7 linked regions of the Homo sapiens genome follow. The protein of the gene in region 3 interacts with the protein of the main gene of each other region in a pairwise test. Each region holds a gene or a part of one and is shown on either strand. Other genes may lie near its edges.

Evidence for each region.
Region 1: the proteins of ZNF620 (region 3) and TRIM50 interact in binary tests that used the Homo sapiens proteins (3 or more experiments, as listed by UniProt).
Region 2: the proteins of ZNF620 (region 3) and USP20 interact in binary tests that used the Homo sapiens proteins (3 or more experiments, as listed by UniProt).
Region 4: the proteins of ZNF620 (region 3) and EEF2KMT interact in binary tests that used the Homo sapiens proteins (3 or more experiments, as listed by UniProt).
Region 5: the proteins of ZNF620 (region 3) and TSR2 interact in binary tests that used the Homo sapiens proteins (3 or more experiments, as listed by UniProt).
Region 6: the proteins of ZNF620 (region 3) and NME7 interact in binary tests that used the Homo sapiens proteins (3 or more experiments, as listed by UniProt).
Region 7: the proteins of ZNF620 (region 3) and KCTD9 interact in binary tests that used the Homo sapiens proteins (3 or more experiments, as listed by UniProt).

What each region holds. Positions count from the first base shown.
Region 1 is NC_000007.14:73,318,083-73,321,582, forward strand, and holds part of TRIM50 (E3 ubiquitin-protein ligase TRIM50), read right to left. Parts: intron 2,161-3,500; coding exon 2,065-2,160; intron 993-2,064; exon of another isoform or gene 971-992; coding exon 740-970; intron 628-739; coding exon 605-627; intron 1-604. UniProt on the Homo sapiens protein: E3 ubiquitin-protein ligase that ubiquitinates Beclin-1/BECN1 in a 'Lys-63'-dependent manner enhancing its binding to ULK1. In turn, promotes starvation-induced autophagy activation.
Region 2 is NC_000009.12:129,876,958-129,880,457, reverse strand, and holds part of USP20 (ubiquitin carboxyl-terminal hydrolase 20), read right to left. Parts: intron 2,121-3,500; coding exon 2,018-2,120; intron 886-2,017; coding exon 814-885; intron 346-813; coding exon 185-345; 3' UTR 169-184; exon of another isoform or gene 1-168.
Region 3 is NC_000003.12:40,512,539-40,516,038, reverse strand, and holds part of ZNF620 (zinc finger protein 620), read right to left. Parts: intron 180-3,500; coding exon 1-179. UniProt on the Homo sapiens protein: May be involved in transcriptional regulation.
Region 4 is NC_000016.10:5,087,796-5,091,295, reverse strand, and holds part of EEF2KMT (protein-lysine N-methyltransferase EEF2KMT), read left to right. Parts: intron 1-730; coding exon 731-864; intron 865-946; coding exon 947-1,212; intron 1,213-2,039; coding exon 2,040-2,189; intron 2,190-3,500. UniProt on the Homo sapiens protein: Catalyzes the trimethylation of eukaryotic elongation factor 2 (EEF2) on 'Lys-525'.
Region 5 is NC_000023.11:54,445,968-54,448,532, forward strand, and holds the end of TSR2 (pre-rRNA-processing protein TSR2 homolog), read left to right. Parts: 3' UTR 1-141; coding exon of another isoform or gene 142-447; 3' UTR 448-1,343; coding exon of another isoform or gene 1,344-1,487; 3' UTR 1,488-2,065; downstream 2,066-2,565. Other genes in the region: FGD1 (FYVE, RhoGEF and PH domain-containing protein 1), read right to left, coding at 142-447, 1,344-1,487. UniProt on the Homo sapiens protein: May be involved in 20S pre-rRNA processing.
Region 6 is NC_000001.11:169,298,298-169,301,797, forward strand, and holds part of NME7 (nucleoside diphosphate kinase homolog 7), read right to left. Parts: intron 467-3,500; coding exon 259-466; intron 1-258. UniProt on the Homo sapiens protein: Possesses an intrinsic kinase activity. Displays 3'-5' exonuclease activity with a preference for single-stranded DNA. Does not seem to have nucleoside diphosphate kinase activity.
Region 7 is NC_000008.11:25,430,934-25,434,433, forward strand, and holds part of KCTD9 (BTB/POZ domain-containing protein KCTD9), read right to left. Parts: intron 2,503-3,500; coding exon 2,397-2,502; intron 1,721-2,396; coding exon of another isoform or gene 1,705-1,720; coding exon 1,571-1,704; intron 1-1,570. UniProt on the Homo sapiens protein: Substrate-specific adapter of a BCR (BTB-CUL3-RBX1) E3 ubiquitin-protein ligase complex, which mediates the ubiquitination of target proteins, leading to their degradation by the proteasome.

The sequences.
Region 1 (3,500 bases), on a different chromosome or scaffold from region 3:
TGTGCCCCTCTGCCAGGTCCCCCAGACACCTGCTCCTCCTCTAGCATTCTGTTTTGTTTTCTGAGACAGGGTCTCGCTCCGTCACCCAGGCTGGATCATGCAGTAGCATGGTCACGACTCACTGCAGCATCAAACTTCTGGGCTCAAGCAATCCTCCCGCCTCAGCCTCATGAGTAGCGGGGACTATAGGCACATGACACCATGCCCAACTAATTTTTTTATTTTTGTATTTTTTGTAGAGATGGGGTCTTACTACATTGGCCAGGCTGGTCTCGAACTCCTGGCCTCAAGCAATCCTCCTGCCTTGGCTTCCCAAAGTACTGGGATTGCAGGCATGAGCTACCCTCCTCTAGTATTTCTGTAGCTTGAGTGAACTTCTGCTGTTCTAGGTACCCACAGTTCACCATCTGCCTCCCCACCCATCTACGAGACCCTTGAAGGCAGGGACATGACTTTCCTCTGTTTTTCCCAGGCTCAGTTATAGAGCCAGCTGTGGGCAGCTGCTTGGGAGGCGCTGGTTAAACCGAATGGAGGAACCAGTGGAGCTGAGATGCCCGTGCCCGCAGCCACCAGACCCTGGCTGAGCTCTCTCCAAGGTTATTACCTGGAGGCCATGGAGTGGAACTTCTGGAAGGCAAGAGAGAGGGAGGTTAAGGCTAGAAGGTGGGAAGCTAGGGCACTGTTGGGAAGGGGAAGGCCCTGGCGGGTATGGGGATGGGACGCCTCCCTGTCCACTCACCCGGATGAACTTGTGGTGGTCCTCATTGCCGAACTGTTCCAGCACACACTCGGCTTGGGCCAGCCGCTCCCGGGTTCCCTGGGCCTGCTCCAGCTGCATGTCCAGGGAGGCCACCAGGCCACGGGTGTGACCCCCTATCCCCTCCAGGCAGCGGGCCTTCTCCTCATCCACCAGGTGGTGCAGCTCCTGGAACTCGCGGCGGATCACCCAGCTGAAGACATCCGACTCATTCTGGGACAGGGAGGGCTGGTCACTGCAGAGTCACAGCCGAGCTGCCAGGCTCTGTCTGGCTGGCCTCGGTGTCCCCAGGGCCTTCCTGACCGGGTTGGTCCTGGGACCTGAGTCTCAGGGGAGGCTGCATGGCCTGGCGCCGGGCAGGGAGTTCACCCCATGCATGGGGAGCCCTGGCGGTGGCCGTGGGGAGGGTGACCCCAGCTCCCGTTTCAAATGGAGAGGCTCTGTTTTGGCCTGTTTTAATTTTTTTTTTTAAGAGACAGGGTCTCACTCTGTTGCCCAGGCTGGAGCACAGTGGCATGATCATAGCTCACTGTAGCCTTGACCTCCCAGCCTCAAGCAATCCTCCCGCCTCAGCCTCCCGAGTTGCTGGGATTACAGATGCACGCCACCACACCCCACTTTGCCTATTTCAGCTATTAAATGTGCATATCCCAGAGTTCCACAACTGAAGGAAAGCAGGAAGGCCCTAGGCGAGCAGGCTTTGCTGTGAGGGAGCCAGAACTCCCTGCAGAACCCTGAGCTCCGCCTCCACCAGGCAGGGCTGGTACCGCCTGCCGCGCAAGGGTGAGGAGGGTAAATGAGGGAGGCTGAGTGCTCCTGGATCTTGCCCGGCTCCTGTTTCTGTTTCACAGCCACCTCCAGGGCCGGGGCACTATGGCTCCCAGCCCCATGTGCCTCTCACTTCGGGAGATCAGCCAGGGCCCAGGGCTGCCAGCCTCTCCACGCCTGAGCACCCAGGTACTGGGAGGGCACCATGACAGGCTGGCAAGGTCAAGCAGACACAGGTGGCACAGGGGCGGAGGAGTCATGCCCATGCTTTGAGCTGTTTACCCCCTGAGACTCAAGTCCTGGGTTATCTCAGTCTCAAGGACACAGAGGGCAAAAGCCAACTTGGAGCCAGTCCTAACGACAACTGGGTTGAATTCCCCTGAGAGGATTTGCGCTTTCCCCACCCCGCCCTGGGAATGCTTTGAGTTCTGGCTTTATATGGAAGGCATGGTTTTCTGTAAAGGACCAATGAGAACTGAGTTCTACAGGAAAGTGAAGGTGGCCGGTCCCAGGCAGGGGCAGAGGGAAGGGGCACTCACGACGATTCGGGTCCGGTTGTTCACCAGTTTGGCGATGAGCTCATCCACCTTTTTCTGCTCCTGCTTCAGCTCAGAGATGAGGGCTGCGAGCTCCTCCTGGAGGCAACAGGCCATGGCCCCATGAGCAGCTGATCCCTCCCCTTCTCAGCTCCTTGGATCACCTTCTTGGGAGTATCCCAATGGCCACAAGCACTCCCAGGGAAACCAGGGCGGGAACCAGAGCCACCCAGGTACCCTTGAGTCCAAAACAGGTTAAATTGTTCGAGAATAGTCTGGGCGCAGAAGCTCACGCCTGTAATTCCAGCACTTTGGGAGACTGAGGTGGGACTTCACTTGAGGTCAGGAGTTCGAGACTAGCCTGGCCAACATAGTGAAACCCCATTTCTATTAAAAATACAAAAATTAGCCAGGCGTGGTGGCATACACCTGTAGTCCCAGCTACTTGGGAGGCTAAGGCACGAGAATCGCTTGAATCTGGGAGGTGGAGGTTGCAGTGAGCCAAGATCATGCCACTGCACTCCAGCCTGGGTGACACAGTGAGACTCTGTCTCAAAAAAATAAAAATAAAAAATAAGATAAATTAATTCAAGAATATTCTAGGCTGGGCGCAGTGGCTCACGCCTGTACTCCCAGCATTTTGGGAGGCCGAGGCGAGTGGATCACCTGAGGTCAGGAATTCGAGACCAGCCTCAACATGGAGAAACCCTGTCTCTACTAAAAATACAAAATTAGCCAGGCGTGGTGGTGCATGCCTGTAATCCCAGCTACTCGGGAGGCTGAGGCAGGAGAATTGCTTGAACCTGGGAGGCAGAGGTTGTAGTGAGCCAAGATCGCGCCATTGCACTCCAGCCTGGGCAACAAGAGTGAAACTCCGTCTCAAAAAAAAAAAAAAGGAATATTCTAGGCTGGGCACAATGGCTCGTGCCTGTAATCCCAGCATTTTAGGAGGCCAAGGTGGGAGAATCACTTGAGGATAGGAGTTTGAGACCAGCCTGGGCAACACAGTGAGATCCCATCTCTAATTTTTTTTTAAAGAATATTCTGCATTGACAGCAGGAACTTCCCAGGCATAAGAGGGTCTCAATGTCACCCCTCTGCATGACATGGAGAGAGTCACTAAACGTTACAGCTACCAGAAGTCACCATGTGATGCTGGCACTTCCTGGATTGAATGCTGCCTGTAGGGGACCCATCAGGTGAACTCTGTGGTCACCAGCAGATCCAGAATTAGTGGGTATTTAATCAGGAGCCATCACAAAAAGGCCGGCGCCAGGTGAGGCTAATTCTAGGGCCAGTGGTGCTCACACGGGCCTGGGTTAAACCTGGTGAATCCCCACACCCATAAACACCTGAATCCATTCCTGGTGGGCTTGGACACAGCACGGATTTGCGACCTCCCCAAGCTGACATAAATGCACTTCTCCTGGACTGCCCGG
Region 2 (3,500 bases), on a different chromosome or scaffold from region 3:
CACGGGCACTCAGCAGTGGGGCCGGGCCATGTCCAGGGCCCTCCCACATCCTCCAGGAAGGTGCTTTCAGGGACCTGCTCTTTGGATGTTCAAAAGGACATGTGAGGGTCTCTGGAGAGTGAGGAGAGGACCCAGAGTGCCATGGAGGGACCAGCCGGGGCGACTTACAGACTAGCCCAGCAGATCACACGGCCCGCGTCTCGGCTTCGATCTTCTGCTCCCCGTGCAGGTTCTCTGGGCCCAGCGGCTGCGCCACACTCTGGCGGATGGCAATCTCGGGGCCACCTCCATACAGGCTGTTCAGGTAGGTCCAGGTCTCCTCCGAAATCTGCCCGTAGTCAGCTCCTGCAGGGCACGAGAGGCACCCCTAGGCTCACCTTTGCCTCCTCAAGGAAGCCACCGGCCTGGGCAGTGGGGGCTCCGCAGGGCCAGGCCCCGAAGCGGGAAGACGGCAACCAGGGCTTCTATGCAAAGCTGTCAGATGGAAATCAGGATTTCCCAGAGGAATGTCCATCCCGCTAAGGGCCCCGGATAACACATCTCTGGCTGTGTCCCTTGTTCCTGGGGGTGGGGCTGACATAAACAGCAGGGTGGGCAAGGCCAGCAGCAGGCAGAGGGGTGGGACCTGGAGGACACAAGCAGAGACCAAGCCCCTTGGGCCATCTCTCAGCCGCCTGGGTCTGGACTCAGGTGGACGTCTCAGCCTGACTCTAAGACAGGTGGTAAGGGGGCTCCTGGAAGGACGGGACTGGGCAGCAGCCTGGCAGCCAGGAAGGGCAGAGAGGAGCCTGGCTGACCCCAGGGGGAACTCACCCTGCTTCAGCTGGACATGGCCGCTTCCTTTGACCTGTGCAATCCTGCTGTTGTCAATGGGCCCGGGGGGCTCTGCAACAGACACAGCGGGCTCGGGTTCAGCCCCTGCCATGCCCTCCACCCTCCACAGCAGCAGAGCCATCCCAAGTGGGGCCGCCCCAGGCCTGGGGGTCAGCGTGAAGTCTCTAATGGATGAGGCGCCTGAGCCACCCAATGCTCCTCTGTGGCAGTCTGAGGACCCAGCAGAGGGAATTTCCAGGACACACGAGATGGTCTCAGACTCTGTGCTGGCCGCAGGAGCTGCGGTGGATGGCCCATGCCCTTATCTCTGCTGGCAGCTGCCGCTCACCACGCCCCTTCCCCTCTGCCCAGCTATCTCATTTAGCCTCGGCAACCACAGGACAAGACAGAGGTTTACAGAGACAGAGCCGAGGCCTGGGAAGGTGAAGTAACCACTCAGGTCATAGCTGGTAGAAGGCAAGGCCAGCGTCCAGGCCAGGGCGAGGGCTCCGGAGCTACATTCTCAACCACAGCCATGCTGAAGGCCTCAGCCACCACCAGAGAGGCCTCACGGTGGCCCTGGCACCTTCCCCGACTAGCGGGATGGCAATGAGGCCTCCCTTCCCAAGCACAGGTGGGTGCTCATGCTCCACACCAAGGGTCCCGTGAGCAGAACCGTGGGCTCTACCCACCCTGCCGGGCCCCGGAGCCACAGGTTAGATTATGCCCCGAGGGCGCCCCAGCCGAAATTTTTAATGCAGGTTTAATAGTTTAGAGCCTGTGGGCTTCCATGGCTTGGTTCTGCTGTTCTTCACTGGGGACTTGGGGGACCCTGGGAGCTTGTGATGGGGCCTGTCTCCACCTCTGTAAATCCAAGGAGTCAGATGACAAATCTGTCATTTCGGGCGACACACTCCCCTGAGGAAAGGGCCTTGCAGGAGGGCAGAGCAGCTTGCTGGGCATGGCAGGGAGTGGAGAAGGGCAGGGGGCGCAGAGCAGGAGCAGCTTCCTGCCTCTGGGTGGGGACAGTGATCCCCACTGGGGACTGGCAAAGCCCCATGCTCTCTGTTCACCCTGGATGGGTGGCACCTGGGGGCAGGCATGGGGCCTGCAGGAGCCCCTGTGTGCCAGCCCTCCCCTGCCAGCATCCCATCTCCCAGGAGGCCCCCAGGGCAGGTAAGTGCCAGGTCCCCCCTCAGCTCACCGTTGTCCTTCCCCTTGACGAACGCCTCCCACTCCCGGAACCACTGCATGCTGATGCAGTAGATGACGCCCGGCGACTCCTCGGCCTGGAAGGCCTTGTTCAACTGGCAGGCGGGCAGGGACGGGAGGAGACAGAGGGCAGGTCAGTCTCTATTTACCTTCAGCAAGGATTTCCCAAATGCCCCCGCCCCAGTCCCTCACCCAAGAGTCTTACAAAAACACCAGATACTCAAGGTGAAAAATCAAACCCCCAGACAAGCTCAAACAAAATGAACACACCCATCACTCAGAGAGGACGGTGGTAACATTTTGTGGGTCTCTTCAATAACTGTTTGACCCAACTGAGACCACAAGGGAGATTCTACTTTTTGAGAAGGAATCTCACTCTGTCACCCAGGCTGGAGTGCAGTGGCGCGATCTCGGCTTACTGCAACCTCTGCCTCCCAGGTTCAAGCGATTCTCCCACCTCAGCCTCTTGAGTAGCTGGGATTACAGGTGTGTGCCACCACCTGGCTACTTTTTGTGTTTTTAGTAGAGACGGGGTTTCGCCATGTTGGCCAGGCTGGTCTTGAACTCCTGACCTCAGGTGATCCGCCCACCTCGACCTCTCAAAAGTGCTGGGATAACAGGCATGAACCACTGCGCCCGGCCTGGGAGATGCTAATTTTCTCCGGTTGAATAGAATGTGCCTATCTGCTCAGAGAGGCAGCTCTCCTTCTGACAGGAGCATTTTCTTTTTCGAGATGGGGGGTGGTCTCACTCTGTGCCCAGGCGGGAGTGCAGCGGCGCAATCATGGCTCACTGCAGCCTTGACCTCCTGGGCTCAAGTGATCCTCCCACCTCAGCCTCCTGAGTAGGTTGGACCACAGGTGCATACCACTAGGCCCAGCCCTGACAGTCTCTTTTTCGTTTGTGTTCTGAGACAGGGTCTCACTCTATTGCCCAGGCTGCGGTGCAGTGGCATGATCACGGCTCACTGCAGCCTCAACCTCCCAGGCTTAGGTGATCCTCCCAACTCACTCAGCCCTCCAGGTAGCGGGGACTACAGGTACACATCACCATGCCTGGCTAATTTTTGTATTGTTTGTAGAGATGGGGTTTCGCCATGTTGGCCAAGTTGGTCTTGAACTCCTGGGCTCAAGTGATCCACCTGCCTCGGCCTCCCAAAGTGCTGGGATCACAGGCGTGAGCCACCATGCCCAGGCAGCAGAATCATTTCCTAATGGCCACAAAGCACGGGCGTCCCTCAGTGTCTCTCACCAGGCCCTCCCTGTGAGTGGAACACGTCCTAACCCTGTTAGAAGTAGCGTGGCAGGGAGGGAGTGCGCCAGGAGCCTCGCCTGCACTCAGCTCCCTCACAGAAGTCCCTCTTCTAAACACAGTCACACTTGAGTCCTGGTTTGCACCTTGGTTTTCACTTCCTGCTTTATCTTGGGCAGTCTGTAGAGCCCAGTGGTTCTCACCCAGGGCAGGGAGGGTACTCT
Region 3 (3,500 bases):
CCTCTTTGACTTTGTCTTAATTATCCAATGACCTTGTGGCTGCTCTAGGCTGCTCCCAAAGTCAAGGTGCTGGGAAACATTCCCTGGCAGGCCCCCCACCATCAGTCTGAAGGACTCTGTTTCTTTGGACACATGATCCTTTGGAGTTAATCCTTCCTTCTCAGTTCTGGCCTCATCCCCTATCACAAAAAGAAAATACAAATGTCAGTCCCTGATATCACACACACACACACACACACACACACACACACACACACAATATCTGTGCTGAAGAAGAAACAGAATCAAGTGGTTCTAATTTGCCCTGAATATATGGATATTTTCTAATATGCTCACAAGATGGCTGCCTAAGATCACCACACAACAGAGCCCTGCAAGGGACATGAAAACTCTATGAGACGGGAGGGAAGCAAGGCCAGGAGGCATTCCCATAAACAGTGTGAAAACCAGAAAACTGCAAAGACTGTTAATTAGGGCAGAAAGACTAAGAGAAAAATGAATGAGGTGGATAAAGATGCAAACATAAAAAAAGTAACAAATGGAAATCCATAAGTGAGAGGAAGACTCCCAAGATTAGAGAAGGGGCAGGCTGAGCAGTTCAAGCACTACAACAGGTCCCACAGGCTGAGATTCCTTAAGAGATGCTTGTTAAAAGACATCATGCATGTCATAACCTTGAAAAGAGAGCTGATCTCTACCATCAAGCTGGCTCTAGTAAAGCAGCAGGCTCCCATGCAGTGGTTGAGGATGCCATGCATGGCAACCACCACAGCATCCAGGAGAAAGGAAGGTTTGGAGGCTTGCCTTTAAAACCAAAAAGCACTGGAAATGTGAAGAACTCTTCCAAGAGTGAATGTAAGTCCCAAAGAGGGCCTGGTAACGATGCTTGCCATTTTTCCTAAAAGGTCTCATAGGTTGTGCATTTGTTTAATACAACAGTTTGAAAAGTGAACTACTAAACTCACATGATAATAAGGGAAAACCAAAGAGAAATATTCCCTCCACTATCAAAACCTTTTGCAGACTAAGTAAAATCTTCAGCCTGCATGCATTCACAAAAAATTGTTCAGAAAATATTTTTACTCAGATGACGTAGGGTCCTGAGGTCACATCCAGAAAGGTACAACTTAAACTCAAGACTTGGGGGTGGATCAGTAATGGGCATTCTCTGCAGAAGAGCACAGAAAATTTTCACAGGCAGAGAATGGGTGAAGCAGAATAAGAAAGATTAAAAAATATACTATGTTTTATGTATTTATTTATTTTTGAGATAGAGTCTCGCTGTGTCACCCAGGCTGGAGTGTGGTGGTGCAATCTTGGCTCACTGCAACCTCCACCTCCTGGGTTCAAGTGATTCTCATGCTTCAGCCTCCCCAGGAGCTGGTACTACAGGTGCACACCACCATACCCAGCTAATTTTTGATGTTTTTGGGTTTTTTTTGAGACAGAGTCTCGCTCTGTCACTCAGGCTGGTGTAGGGTCCAGCCCTACTGGGCCTCTGGGTTTTTCTCCTCATGTGCAGAGACGAGAGATGGTAGAAATAAAGACACAAGACAAAGAGATAGAAGAAAAGACAGCTGGGCCCAGGGAACCACTACCACCAAGATGCGGAGACTGGTAGTGGCCCTGAATGCCTGGCCGTGCTGTTATTGATTATGTACAAGGCAAAGGGGCAGGGTATGGAGTGAGAGTCATCTCCAATGATAGGTAAGGTCACACGAGTCACATGTCCACCAGACAGGGGGCCCTTCCCTATTTGGTAGCCGAGGCGGAGAGAGAGAGGGGACAGCTTACATCATTATTTCTTCTAGAAGGCAGAGCCAGGTGTACAGGGCAGAACATGAAAGTGGACCAGGAGCGTGACCACTGAAGCACAGCATCAACAGGGAGATGGTTAGGCCTCCGGATGGCTGCGGGTGGGCCTGACTGATGTCAGGCCTTCCACAAGAGGTGGTGGAGCAGTCTTCTCTAACTCCCCCGGGGAAAGGGAGACTCCCTTTCCCGGTCTGCTAAGTAACGGGTGCCTTCCCAGGCACTGGCGCTACCGCTAGACCAAGGTCTGCTAAGTAAGGGGTGCCCTCCCAGGCACTGGCATTACCGCTAGACCAAGGAGCCCTCTGGTGGCCCTGTCCCGGCTTGACAGAGTGCTCACACTCTTGTCTTCTGGTCACTTCTCACAGTGTCCCTTCAGCTCCTATCTCTGTATGGCCTGGTTTTTCCTAGGTTATAATTGTAGAACAGAGATTATTATAATATTGGAATAAAGAGTAATGCTACAAACTAATGATTAATAATATTAATATATAATCATATCTATAATCTATTTCTAGCATAATTATTCTTATTCTATATATTTTCTTTATTATACTGGAACAGCTTGTGCCCTCAGTCTCTTGCCTTGGCACCTGGGTGGCTTGCTGCCCACAGGCTGGAGTGCAATGGTATGATCTCAGCTCACTACGACCTCCACTCCCCAGGTTCAACCGATTCTCCTGCCTCCGCCTCCTGAGTAGCTAGGATTACAGGCACGTGCTACCACGTCCATGCTAATATTTTGTATTTTTAGTAGCGATGGAGTTTCACCATGTTGGCCAGGCTGGTCTCGAACTCCTGACCTCAGGTGATCCACCCACCTCGGTCTCCCAAAGTGCTGGGATTACAGGCATGAACCACCACACCTGGCCATATATATATATATATATATATATATATATATATATATTTTTTTTTTTTTTTAGTTGAGACGGGGTTTCGTCATGTTGGCCAAGCTGGTCTTGAACTCCTGGCCTCAAGTGATCCACCTGCCTCAGCCTCCCAAAATGCTGAGATTACAGGTATGAGCCACCATGCCCAGCCTATTTTTAATTCTTATATCAATAGCCATCGAAGTGAGAAAGTTATTCACCTTTAATTTACAATAAATTTTGCTTCAGAAATTTTTTTAAGTATCTGTGGGGGAAAGATGAAATAAGAATCAAAGGATATTTGTGACTGTTGAAGCTGGATGAAGGATACATGGAGTGCATTATGCTGGTGTTTGCATATATTTGAAAATTTCCATTATAAAAACAAACTTTTTATTCTTTAAGTCAGTGCTTAAACAATGTAGCCTATGATATGCAGATGGCCAGCCATGTTGCCAGAAGCCTATTTTCCTCCAAAGGTGGCTGACATCCTCATCTTTGCAAAAACAAACTGGCAGAAAAATAAAATGTTTTCATGTGACAGAGAAGAAATGAGCTGGTTTAAGTGCTGCCCAATCAGACAGTCTCCCTTGGCAGGTTGTGAGGAGGACAGGCAAAGACGAATATGCAAAGAAATCTTACAGTCATTCCTGTCTTAAAAGAGACTGGCCCTTCCCCAGTTGAGGTAGGCTACCACCATGAACTCAGAGAATCACATGTAATGATTCCACAGGAACAAAAACAGTCTCCCAAGAGAAGAAACACTTCTTGCACAATGAAATGTGAAAACAAGAAAGCAAGCCAAGCCAAAAAGGC
Region 4 (3,500 bases), on a different chromosome or scaffold from region 3:
AGCCTGGCCAACATGGTGAAACTCCATCTTTACTAAAAATACAAAAATTAGCGGGGTGTGGTAGTGGGCACCTGTAATCCCAGCTACTAGGGAGGCTGAGGCAGGAGAATCTCTTCAACCCAGGAGGTGGAGGTTGTAGTGAGCCAAGATCATGCTATTGCACTCCAGCCTGGGCAACGAGAGCAAATCTCTGTCTCAAAAAAAAGTACAAAAAGTAGCCGGACATGGTGGCACACGCCTGTATTCGCAGCTACCTGGGCGGCTGAGGCAGGAGAATTGCTTGAACCCAGGAGGCAGAGGTTGCAGTGAGCCAAGATCGTGCCACTGACTCCAGCCTGGGTGACAGAGCTCAAAAAAAAATAAGATAAAACATAGATACAGAAAACCACAAAGGAAAAACAGCATATTGAATCATCACAAGGCAGCCACCCCTTCATAGCCACACCTGTCCCCTGGCCACCACTGACATGTGTTCCATCGCCAGAATTCCGTTGTCTCAGGAAGGTTCGATGAATGGAATCCTGTGTGGCCTGAGATGAGTGTCTTTCACACCGCGTGACACCCTTGAGGCCCGTGAAAGCTGTTGGCATGCCAACAGTTAGCTGCTTCTCATTGCTGAGTGGCGATTGGTCCTGTCATGGTTTATTCAGCCATGTGGTGGGGCTACTTGTCTTCTAAGCCACTTGCCTTCTGATCGCTGGACTGACTCTCTCGCCTTCTCTTGGTGCAGCCCTCGGGAGGCTCGGTCACACTCTCCGAGAGCACGGCCATCATCTCCTACGGTACCACAGGCCTGGTCACATGGGACGCCGCCCTCTACCTTGCAGAATGGGCCATCGAGAACCCGGCAGTCTTCACTAACAGGTGACCTCGGGGCGCAGGGCAGGGCACCGAGGCAGGCTTACCCTGGTGCAGTCGCAGACACGGTCCCCTTTCCTCCCGCCAGGACTGTCCTAGAGCTTGGCAGTGGTGCTGGCCTCACAGGCCTGGCCATCTGCAAGATGTGCCGCCCCCGGGCATACATCTTCAGCGACTGTCACAGCCGGGTCCTTGAGCAGCTCCGAGGGAATGTCCTTCTCAATGGCCTCTCATTAGAGGCAGACATCACTGCCAAGTTAGACAGCCCCAGGGTGACAGTGGCCCAGCTGGACTGGGACGTCGCGACGGTCCATCAGCTCTCTGCCTTCCAGCCAGATGTTGTCATTGCAGCAGGTAATGCCCAGCCCCGGGCACCCTGTGCAGGTGGTGTCCTTGCAGCTCTACCCAGCTCTTGGCTCTGGGAAAAGGGAACAATGGACGCTGTCGGGCATGGACATGATGGGGCTTCCAGAAGAGTTACTCTGGGCCTCCAGGGTGACATCACAGGACAGGGGTGCCTCTTAAGGTGACCTTCAACCCACAGCCCTCTTTTTGGAGACAGGCATACTCCCGTTCCAGTCGTTACCACATGGCTCTGTCCCAGAGCCATGCCCTGTGTCCTTCAGAGACCACAGGAGGAAAACAACCACTTCTGGGACGAAGACAGGGCCCTTGAGAGAAGGTGGTGTTTGGCTGGGCCACCGAAAACCCCTCACCCCTGCCAGCACACTCAGTCCCCTCTCTGGTGGAACAGAGCTCTGCCTGTGGTCCTAGGTCCCAGCCCTGAAACCCACAGGTCCAGCGGTGGCCAGGGACACAAGCCCACCCCTGCAAGCCAGCAGACAAATCAGCAGATGCCTGAAACATGAAGTTCATGGCAGGGTCAGGCTTTGTGTCATTCAAAGCCCTCTAGATAGGCCAAGAACCAGAGCTGGTTTTTTAAGGAACACCAGTGAGTCTGGAGATTTTTTTCTTTTGCTTCGGTCTTTTGCAGCTTTCTCTACTAAGGGTTCTCCTTTTTCACCCAAGTAATTGCCTTTCCATCTAATGGCCCAAATGGTCAAATGGCATCTACTAGTCTCATATGACCGCTGCCTCTCTGGCCTCGCCCTGCTGCTGACGTCAGCATGACCTGGACCTGTCCACTGGTCCCTTTCAGTAACCTGAAGCTTTCACCATAGATGTGCTGTATTGCCCAGAAGCCATCATGTCGCTGGTCGGGGTCCTGCGGAGGCTGGCTGCCTGCCGGGAGCACCAGCGGGCTCCTGAGGTCTACGTGGCCTTTACCGTCCGCAACCCAGAGACGTGCCAGCTGTTCACCACCGAGCTAGGTGAGCCTCCACGCCCACCCGGGCCTGCATGGTCCCTGAGCTGTCCCTGCAGGACGCCAGTGGAAGTGAAAGAACTGGGTGCCGGGGAAAAGCTAGGTTGCCCCACACTCCCACACCATGGGGGGAACTCAGGCAGAGGCCAGTGAGCAGGGTGGGCTTGGGGCGTGGGGGGCTTGCGGCAGGAGGAGGGCAGCTCAGCACAGGGAGGGAGGGTCTGAGCCCAGCAGCCCTACTGTGTGCTTCAGAGCAGGGTTCCCTAAGCCCTTGGGCCTCGGTTTCCTCATCTATAAAATGGAGGTGGCGGGAGGGGCAGTCGGGGTCAGGGCTGGACACAGCTGTGGCCTGCAGGACGCTGGAGCACAGGATGTACAGGCGGATCCACCACGCCACTGTCCTGAGCACCCAGTCGGTGGAAGACGAGCAGGGTGACTGTAGAGAAGGGGAACTGGCCCCATAGTGGGCCAGCAACTGTCCTCAGACCTGACATTTGTCAGCCCCCAGCAACTGTGAGGGTGTGCTGTCACTGTCCCATCTCACCAACAAAGACACTAGGACACACGGAGGCCAAGAGACCCCCGAGCTCCCGCAGACTGCACCCCAGCCACCTGGCTCTCACGCCTCCACACTACACCCAAGCCCCCCAGTGCCACCAGCCTTTGCCCCAGCTCCCCCTGAGCACAGCCCCTCCTGGCAGCCATGTGCACAGATGCACATGCAGCAGCCTCTGCCTGCACACAGAGACACAGACAACCCAGTGCCTGTCCACGTGGGGCAGCCCGTTAACTACAGAGCCAACAAACAAGCCAGCACACGAAGACGTACTGGGTTCCACGACAGAGTCCCCCCACAACCTCGCACAGGAGGCTGGCCGGGCGCAGGGCTCAGGCCTGTCATCCCAGCACTTTAGGAGGCTAAGGCAAGAGGACTACTTGACCCCAGGTGTTCAAGACCAACCTGGGCCACATAGTGGGACCCCATCTTCACAAAACATACAGAAGCTAGCCAGATGTGGTTGCACACGCCTGTAGTCCCAGCTACTCAGGAGGCTGAGGTGGGAGGATGGCTTGAGCCCAGGAGATGGAGGCTGCAGTGAGCCCTGATCTCACCACTGCACTCCAGCCTGGGCAACAGAGCAAGACCCTGTCTCAAAAAAGCAAAGAAATAAAAAATAAAAAAAAAAAAAGGAAGTCTTTCTTCAGATACTTACGTGAAAAAAAACCTGCAATATATTTTAAGTGAAAAAAACAGTGCCAAGCAGCACACATAGTATAAGCCCCCACCCACCTTTTTTTTTTTTTTTTTTTTTGAGAC
Region 5 (2,565 bases), on a different chromosome or scaffold from region 3:
CAAGACCCAGCATTCGGGATTGAAAGTGCCCGTGATGGGAGTTCAAGTATTGACTGAGCTGGGAGGGAAGGGGCTAGAGCCCCCAATCAGACATGGGCAACTAGAGTGTGGGGTGGGGGCTCCCAGTTTGTCCCAAACCCTCTAGGTCTTGTCTCGGGTCTGGGGGGATTCGGGGGGTTCAGCAGTGGCTCCTAAAGCAGCCACCGGTGCCTCCTCCATCTCCCTGTCCTCAGACAGTGTGGGCCCCGGGCAGAACGTGTCCCCTCGGCCCGCCCGGCCAAGCACAGCCATCCAGCGTCGCTGTAGTTCCTCTGTCTCAGGGCTGAAGTACCAGCTGAGGTGGCTCTGGGTGATCTTGAAGACATGCCTTCTGTCAGGCCGCTCCCCTGCCTCGGGCGGTCCCACCTCGAAGCCAATGAGGGGCAGGCTGCGCTGGGCTTTCACATCCTGGCGGGAGGAGGGACAGAGCTGGGGCCACCTTGGGGCTAGACCTTTCCCCCGCCCCAGCTTCTAACTGGTTTTGCATATGCTCTGTCTTCAGTCCCCTACTCAGGAACTCCCCTACTCAGGAACCTTCCGTGGCTCCAGTGTTATCAACAGGAACATGTCAGAACTGGGGCTAAAATGCAGGCTGGTTTAAATACCTGTCTCCCCCCACCCCCGCCTCTTCTCACAAAACTGCTGGGCTAGTCTCTTTAGCATACCAAATAATGTTTTCAGGCCTTTGTCTATGCTATTGCCCCTATCTGCATACTTTTTTTTTTTTTTTTTTTTGAGACAGAGTCTTGCCCTGTTGCCCAGGCTGGAGTGCAGTGGCATGAACTTGGCTCACTGCAACCTCTACCTCCCAGGTTCAAGCAATTCTCCTGCCTCAGCTTCCTGAGTAGCTGGGACTACAGGCACACGTCACCACGCCAGGCTAATTTTTGTATTTTTAGTAGAGACGGGGTTTCACCATGTTGGCCAGGCTGGTCTTGAACTCCTGATCTCAGGTGAGCCACCTGCCTCGGCCTCTCAGAGTGCTGGGATTACAGGCGTGAGCCACTGCGCTCGGTCCCATCTGCATACTCTTACCCACTCCAAATTGGACCTAGCAGTTCCCCATCTCTACTCCTTCCAGGAAGCCAGGCCCACAACTCATCCTGGTTTTCCCTACATACCACAACCACTCCTTGTCTCTAGCCAGTCTTTGTCTCTCAAGGGTTGGGGTTCTGATTTCCTCTTAGAGATAGGCTCACCTTATCTTCCAAGGCTCACCTTATCTTCCAAGGCCAAGGAGAGGTCAAGGACTGGATCTGGCTTTGCCAGGTGGCTGAAAGGACCCGAAGGAGTAGGATGCATACCTGAGGGGCTCCGTAGATATACAGCACCAAGGGTTCATTTTCAGGGACCACGAACCATGCCTTGTGCCATCCTTTGCCACCCTTCTCCATGTAGTGCAGGAAGCTGCAGATGACGCTGTTCTCTGCAGCCACTGAGGCCTGTTTCTGTGGCCAGAGACACCGGGCATCAATGTTGACAGAAGGCCTAGCCTGGCTCCTCCTAGCTTTAATACCTCCTCAGTGTAGGGACTGCTATTCCTATCTCAGATGAAGACGCTCAAGCTCAGGTGGCAGGAGTGATTTGTCCAGTGCCACCCAGTGAATCAGCTAGAGCTGAGATTCAAAGCTAGGTTCGTCTGCCTCATTTGGGCAACGGCTGCTGCCTCTACAGGCCAGTGGAAGGAGTGTGCGGATCTCAGGCATTCTTTCTTCAGTCAGAGCATTCATTCCTCAAGCCATTCACACATTTAGGCCTCATGCTTTTTTCTGTCTTTCATCACATCCATTTCCTACACTCATTGAGAGGTAATCTAGCATTGTGGTTTTAAGGGGGTATGTGGGTGGTTAATGAAGTCTGGCTTAGAATCCCAGCTCTAGATGAAAATGTATTGACTTGGAGAGCAAAGAGAGCTGATGTGAGAATTAAATGAATTAATATATGCAAAGTGCTTAGAATAGTTCCTGGCACAGAGTAAGTACTCTTTTAAGTGTTAAATAAATACCTAGATTTGTTTTTAAAAAAATCTCCAAAATGTGTGTTTGTGCATATATGCCTAGAAAGATAGGATAAGCCCTCACAATGGTAACTTTTGGGTAGAAGGGATACGGTATTTTATTATTTTTTGTTTATATTGGTCTACTTATCCTACTTTGTAATAACAAAAGACAATTTTTAAATTTTTTTTTTTTTTTTGAGACGGAGTTTTGCTGTTGTTGCCCAGGCTGGAGTACAATGGCGCGATCTTGGCTCACCGCAACCTCTGCTTCCCAGGTTCAAGCGATTTGCCTGCCTCAGCCCTCCCAAGTAGCTGGGATTGCAGGCGTGCGCCACCATGCCTGGCTAATTTTGTGTTTTTAGTAGAGATGGGGTTTCTCCACATTGGTCAGGCTGGTCCTGAACTCCCGACCTCCGGTGATTCACCCGCCTCAGCCTCCCAAAGTGCTGGGATTACAGGCATGAGCCACTGTGCCCAGCCAATTTTTTAATTTTAAAAAAATCCAGTGCTGCCACTCATTTGCTGTG
Region 6 (3,500 bases), on a different chromosome or scaffold from region 3:
TTAAGTCTTGGGAACAAGAAACAGGATGAGAAGTGTTTTAATTGGAGAAAACTTACGTTGATCATGATCAGGTTACCAGTTCACAAAGGAGACACACTGAATCACTGTTTGATAGTAGGCAAGATGTCAAAGGTTTTCTCTACTACTAGAGCAGCAGCATAAATCCACCCTAAGTCACCAGTGATAGAAATGCTTTCCTTTGATATAAAACATTTAACAGAACTAGAAGAGCATTAAAATATTTTTAAAACACCTTACTCTGGCCGCAGAAGCAAAAGAATCAGGGCCATGCGCTGCATTTCTTATGCCATCTGTTCCAAAGAGGGCTCTAATGCTTTCAGAAGCATCTGTGCGTGCCACTCCAGAGTTTGCAGGTCCCAGCAGTCTTTTCCATTCACATATAGCATCATCTCTTAAAATCTCCATGGCAATAATAGGACCAGTTGTAATAAACTGGATCAGCTCACTACAAAACAGATAGAAGATTAGTTTGCTTCTTTTTTCTGTCAACTAGGTATTTGTCTTAACGACAGGATATATTTAAATTGGATTATTTCAACATAGACATGAATATTATAATCTTAGAACCATTAAGCATAGTTAATTTTACATGGGCAGGAGAAATTTTTCATAAATTGAGTGTCTTGCAGTGGCTCAATTCACTTCAAATCACTAGTAATGTCAAATTACTGTTACCAGAAAAATCACTGTTCTGTTGAATTAAGACTATTTCATGACTTAAAATGCATACTGTTGACCTATGCTTTTCCCAGTGCTCTAACAGGTACAGAGGATTTTCCTTTTTATTTACATGTGTTTACCACTGCAGTCAAGTACAATTTCACAATATATAGGGATGGATGCCTTGTAACATATTTTTAGTAAGAATTTATTTATTTTTGTGTAAAACTATTAGAATTCAAAGACTGACAAAGAACTCTCTTAATCAATAAACACTGAGCTGGTTTGGTGATAAAAAAAAAAATCCCCAGCAGGCTTCAAGAAATATCCTTTTATTAGCGTAAAAACTACTCTGGGTTATTTCTGTATTAAATTATTAAAGTGTACGCATCGGTTCTTGACTAAAAATCCAGCACTGAGTCACAGTCCCCCAAGGTATAAAAGACAATACTTCATTTTATTTTCTACTTTTATATGTGTACAGGATGCAATGACAAGTTTAACTATGAAATAAGTGACATCCTCCCTCTGACTATATTAAGCAGGGACACAGTACTTTTTAGAGTAAGCCCATGGTTTTCTCTCATCCAAAGTAGAGAGAAGAGATCCTCCTGGAGAAAGGAGCATGGTGTGACAGGCTCTTTTGTGCCCACTAACTTATGACTATTTTTTACACACTTCCTTCCACCCTGCATGTTATATGTCAGCTCCCCTCAGTACTTCCTTTTTAAAACACTCCCATTCATTTTGAAGAATATTTCTAAAAAACAGCATGTACAAAAAAGTATTCTTGTCTTCTATCCTAAGAGTTCTATAATACCTCCTCATACATTTTCTGCCAGACCTTTGCTGCCAAAACAAACAAAACCCCCAAGACCAACCACTAGATTTAAAAAAACCCAAATCAAAGGAGCAAACCATGTTTATTCACTCAATAAGCATTTAATAATTGCCTATAACATATCAGCGTCTGTGCCACAAAAAAGATCCCCCTTCAAGACACTTACAATCTAACGCCCTATTAATACAAAATTCTCAAAACACACAATTGAATAAGCCTATGAATATGGCATGTAACAATATAGGGAAGGATGTGCCTGATCATAGATACTGCTTCATGAAAATTTAATTACTTCACCTAGTCTTTTGTTACATCATTCTCATTAACAGGCAACTAGTTAATTCATTCCTTTAATAAAATTTACTGCATGCAAATCACACATAAATCATTAGACTAGGAGTTGTAAGTTAATGCTATAAACATATACAAAGTTTATACCAAAAGATAATTTCCACCAATTTTCTAGAAAAGTGTATATAGCTATTCTAAGAAGGCTTAGGAATATTTTATAACACTTGATTTGAAATAATCTATAGCATAATAATTTTCTTACATACAAATTTTTTTAAAAACCCACTACTCAGTGCAGGATATCAAATAACATGTCTACTGTGGCCATTTAGTTTGGCTGATGTAACATTCTTTCTTATTAGAAGTGTAAACAGTCTTTGGCAACAGTAATAATAATATGAGCATGCAAAATATTCACTTAAATTTAATTACATGTCAAATATTTAGAATACATAAAGTGTAACATATATTATCTGTTCTATGTCAAGGAACAAAATATATATCAAACTAGTTAAAATAGAAAGGTTCCATGAACATTGCTTTATGTATACAAGACTACCAAAATAGTTTAAAAGTACAACAGGCTACAGTAACCAAAACATCATGGTACTGGTACAAAAACAGACACATAGATCACTGGAACATAATAGAGAACCCAGAAATAAAGCCACACATCTACAGCCATCTGAACTTTGACAAAGTCAACAAAAATAAGCAATGGAGAAAGGATTCTCTATTCAATAAATGGTGCTGGGATACCTGTCTAGCCATAAGCAGAAGAAAGAAACTGGCCCCTTAACATTAACCATATACAAAACTTTACTCAAGATGGATTAAAGATTTAAAAGTAAGACCTCAAACTATAAGAATCCTAGAAGAAAACCTAGGAAACACCATTCTGGACATTGGCCTGGGGAAAGAATTTATGACTAAGTCCTCAAAAGTAATGGCAACGAAAACAAAAATTGACGAGTGGGACTAAAGAGCTTCTGCACAGAAAGCTTCTGCACTAGCAACAGAGTAAAAAGACAATCCACAGAATGAGAGAAAATATTCACAAACTATGCATTCAACAAAGGACTAATATGCAGAATCTGTAACGACCTTAAATAATCAAACAAGCATGAAACAACCCCACTAAAAAAAGAGCAAAAGACATAAATACACACTTCTCAAAAGAACATACAAGCAGCCAATAAGCATACGAAAAAACGCTCAATATCACTAATCATCGGAGAAATGCAAATCAAAACCACAATGAGATACCATTTCACACCAGTCAGAATGGTTATTATTAAAAAGTCAAAAAATAACATGCTGGCAAGACTATAGAGGAAAGAGAATGCTTATACACGGTTGGTGGGAATATTAATTACTCCAGCCATTGTGGAAAGCAGTGTGGATATTTCTCAAAGAACTTAAAACAGAGCTACCATTTAACCTAGCAATTCCATTACTGGGTATATACCCAAAAGAAAAGAAATTCTGCCAAAAAGACACATGCCCTCATACACTCATTGCTGTGCTATTCACAATAGCAAATACATGGAAATAACTCAAGTGCCCATCAGTGGCAGATTGGATAAAGAAAATGTGGTATATATATATAACACAGAATTCTACACAGCCATAAAAAAATAAAATTATGTCCTTGGCAATAATATGGACACAATTGGAGGCCATAATC
Region 7 (3,500 bases), on a different chromosome or scaffold from region 3:
ATTCTCCTGCCTCAGCTTCCAGAGTAGCTGGGGTTACAGGCACTCACCACCACGCCTGGCTAATTTTTTCTATTTTTAGTAGAGACGGGGTTTCACCATGTTGGCCAGGCTGGTCTCAAACTCCTAACCTCAAGTGATTCGCCCACCTTGGCCTCCCAAAATGCTGGGGTTACAGGCATGAGCCACTGCGCCTGGCCCCAAAGTAATAAATATTATCAAAACAATTTTACTATGATCCAAGAACAACAACAACAAAAGGAATGAGATGGGGGGAAGACTTTTTTTTTAATCTGAAAAGATTTTACTTAATCAAATTGTGTAATAGATTTTTCCATTCCCTAGCCCTAGTATTTTTATAGCAAGGAACTGCCCTTCTTTTTAAAGCCCCAAAGGTACGTATATAATACAGTGAGTTTGACAGATGTACAGAACAGTGTAACCACCGCAATTTGAAGCTATTTCTTAATTTGTCTTGAGATCACGGAGCAATAAGATAGAGATTCCACTTAAGTCCCTGGATATGATAGGGGACAATGGTTAGAGAGAAGGGTGACTAAACGTAACCTGTTAGGAGAACAAATGTCAGCAGCTCTCCCCTCAATAGTCAACCTGATCAGTCTTTGCAATCAGAGAGAGGGAGGCTTTTGCTGCTAGGCCACACTGAGTACACAGTACTAAAACCAAGGAAAAAAATATAATCTTAGGTGAAAGTAATGTAACAAACAATAAATAATTGTGCTCGTGATAGGATTATACTTAGGCCAATTCTTTTTGCCTTGAAGTTGAAAGGGGCCTGCTACTCTGCTACCGAGAGCTATCAAGATATCTAGGCAAAAATATTATGAAAAAACATTAACAGCAAGCTAAATTTTGACATACCGTTCTCTGCTATCCAATTTATACCAGATTTCATAGCTACCAGCCACATGTGGCTACTTAAATTTAAATGAATTAAAATTAAATAAAATTTAAAAATCAATTTCTCATTTGCACTAGCCAAATCTCAAGCGCTCAATAGCTATATATGGGTGGTAGCTACTATACTGAACAGCACAGATATAGAACATGTCCCTCCTGCACAAAGTGCTATTGGATAGTGCTGATATAGACCTATCAACAGCTATCAAGTCTGCTAGCTAAACTGGCAAATTAAGAAGACATACAAATATAATTCTTTGAAAAAGATGACCAGGCAAAATTATAATCTCAAGCTGAAAACCAAAAAACATATGGTTCCAATTTCAAATAGACTTTTCCTGAACCTGATTTCAAACCTGGATATCATTTAAATTTCTCAAGTAGTTTAAGAAGTAATCTAGCCCATTTAATTCTATTCGGAATTAAATTTTATGGAAAATGCAATACATTAGATAACACATCTATCAAACTTATTTACTTGAGAAAAACTCAAGGAAAAGGAGAGAAATGAAATCAACTTAGACTGAATGTCAGATGAGTCTTCCAATCCAGTTTTACCAGCCAACTACTTTGTTTTGATTTCAATAAATTTTGCATGAGATGCTTAGTAAGTCTAGAGTAATAAAAATTCTTAAAGTGTTGGTGAACTCACCTCTAAATCAGTTCCTGCCAGAGTTGCTCCTCTGAGGTTACAGTTCTTCAACTTTGCATTTTTTAAGGTAGCCACTCTCAGGTTAATTCCTGTCATCTGACTTCCTTCCATATCCACACCTTTCAGATTAGCACCTACAGTGAACACATTCTGGGAGTAGTTTAACTTAAAAATATAGTTATCTACCTTCAACAGAACTGCAAGATGACTTAATGGAGGCCTCTTTTAACTTTTGGAAATTAATCTAAAATCTTGTCTCTCAACGAACTTATATATATAAACAGTTTACTGATGAAAGAATGCTTTCACAATACTTTTGAGGGAAGAAATTTAGTTCTGTCTTATGATAGTTAGCACTTTCATAATATGCCTCTACAGGTTTATGATAAGGGAGTGAAGTAGTCTCCTAAATATACAAGTAAACAAAGTGATCAGTCACAGATAGTAACAAATTAAGAAACAATACATTAAATCTAAAAATGATTTTTAAAAACTCCCTGGCTTTATGCAAATGAAATTTTTCCTTTTGGTCAGTGTAAGAATATTTTATTCCATTTGAAAGTTTAAGATGTTGATATTTAATTTTCCAACTAAAACCTTATTAAATATTTGAGGTTTTATTTTTTCTGAGTCCTCAATTTTGATTAGCATTTGACTGAAACCAAATGGAGGTTTCTTACCACTTTGGAAGTTCTCCAAATATGATGACAGAAGAAACCTATCCCCTACAGCTATCCTGTTTCACCCTTAACAATTATTTTCCAGGGCTTTTTTCCTTTACAGTCTGCTTCCTTCGTAGAATAGGTATTTACAGAAAGGATCTCACCTTCTAAATTGGCTTTAAGACCAGAAGGATCCTCAAAATTACACAGTTTCAGGGATGCTCCTTCTGCATTAGAACAGAGCATCTTGACTCCCTGGAGATTCGCACACTGCAAAGAAAAGAGAAAAGTCCTGGTTGTAAGGTTCATAATTTTGTTCAAATTAGCTCAAACAGTAAAAGAAAAAAAATAGAAAAGAGGGAAAGGCTCAACTCAAAACACTCATACTCAATTTTATTTTCTGTTTACAATAAAGGCTTTTCTAATTAAATACAGTAAGAACTGGGAACATTTGAAAGAAAAATTTTTTTAAAGAACTGTTTTTTAAAAAATAAATGCAAATTAACAATAGCATGCTCATTTTACATGAAACATAACGGTTTAGATAAAGAAGTTGGGTGAGTCAGAACTCTGACACCTCTATCTCTATTTTTATAAACATACCTATGCATGACAATGAAACAGTCAAAATGTATGGGTAAGGAAGGCATAGACTTGTTAGGGGTATGGATTTTCTTATTACTGTAGGAATCTTGATGTTCTAAGTGAAATTCTTGATATTCTAAGATGCTACTACTGCCCTCAAGTCAGAGGTCAGAATACAAAAGCCAGCATTTAAAGGCATTATTTAGCTAGAAAACACTAACAAGATGCTGGCTGGGTCTTTCTGCACCAACCATGGCTAAACATTATTAACCCTGAGCAGGCACATCACAATGCATAATGCAGGGCAGAGAGTAAAATGGTAGAAAATATATGTTTTAAGACTTTATTTTTTTGTTTTGTTTTGTTTGAGACAAAGTCTCACTCCGTCACCCAGGATGGAGTGCAGTGGTGCTGTCTCAGCTCACTGCAATCTCTGCCTCCCAAGTTCAAGTGATTCTCGTGCCTCAGCCTCCTGAGTAGCTTGAATTACAGGCATGCACCACCACGCCTGGCTAATTTTTGTATTTTTAGTAGAGACGGGGTTTCGCCATGTTGGCTAAGATGGTCTTGACCTCAAGTGATCTGCCTGCCTCTGCTCCCCAAAGTGCTGGGTTTACAGGCATGATCCACCACACGCAGCCAAGAGTTTTAAATTATGTTCATTTATCTCAAAGCGTTTTTGA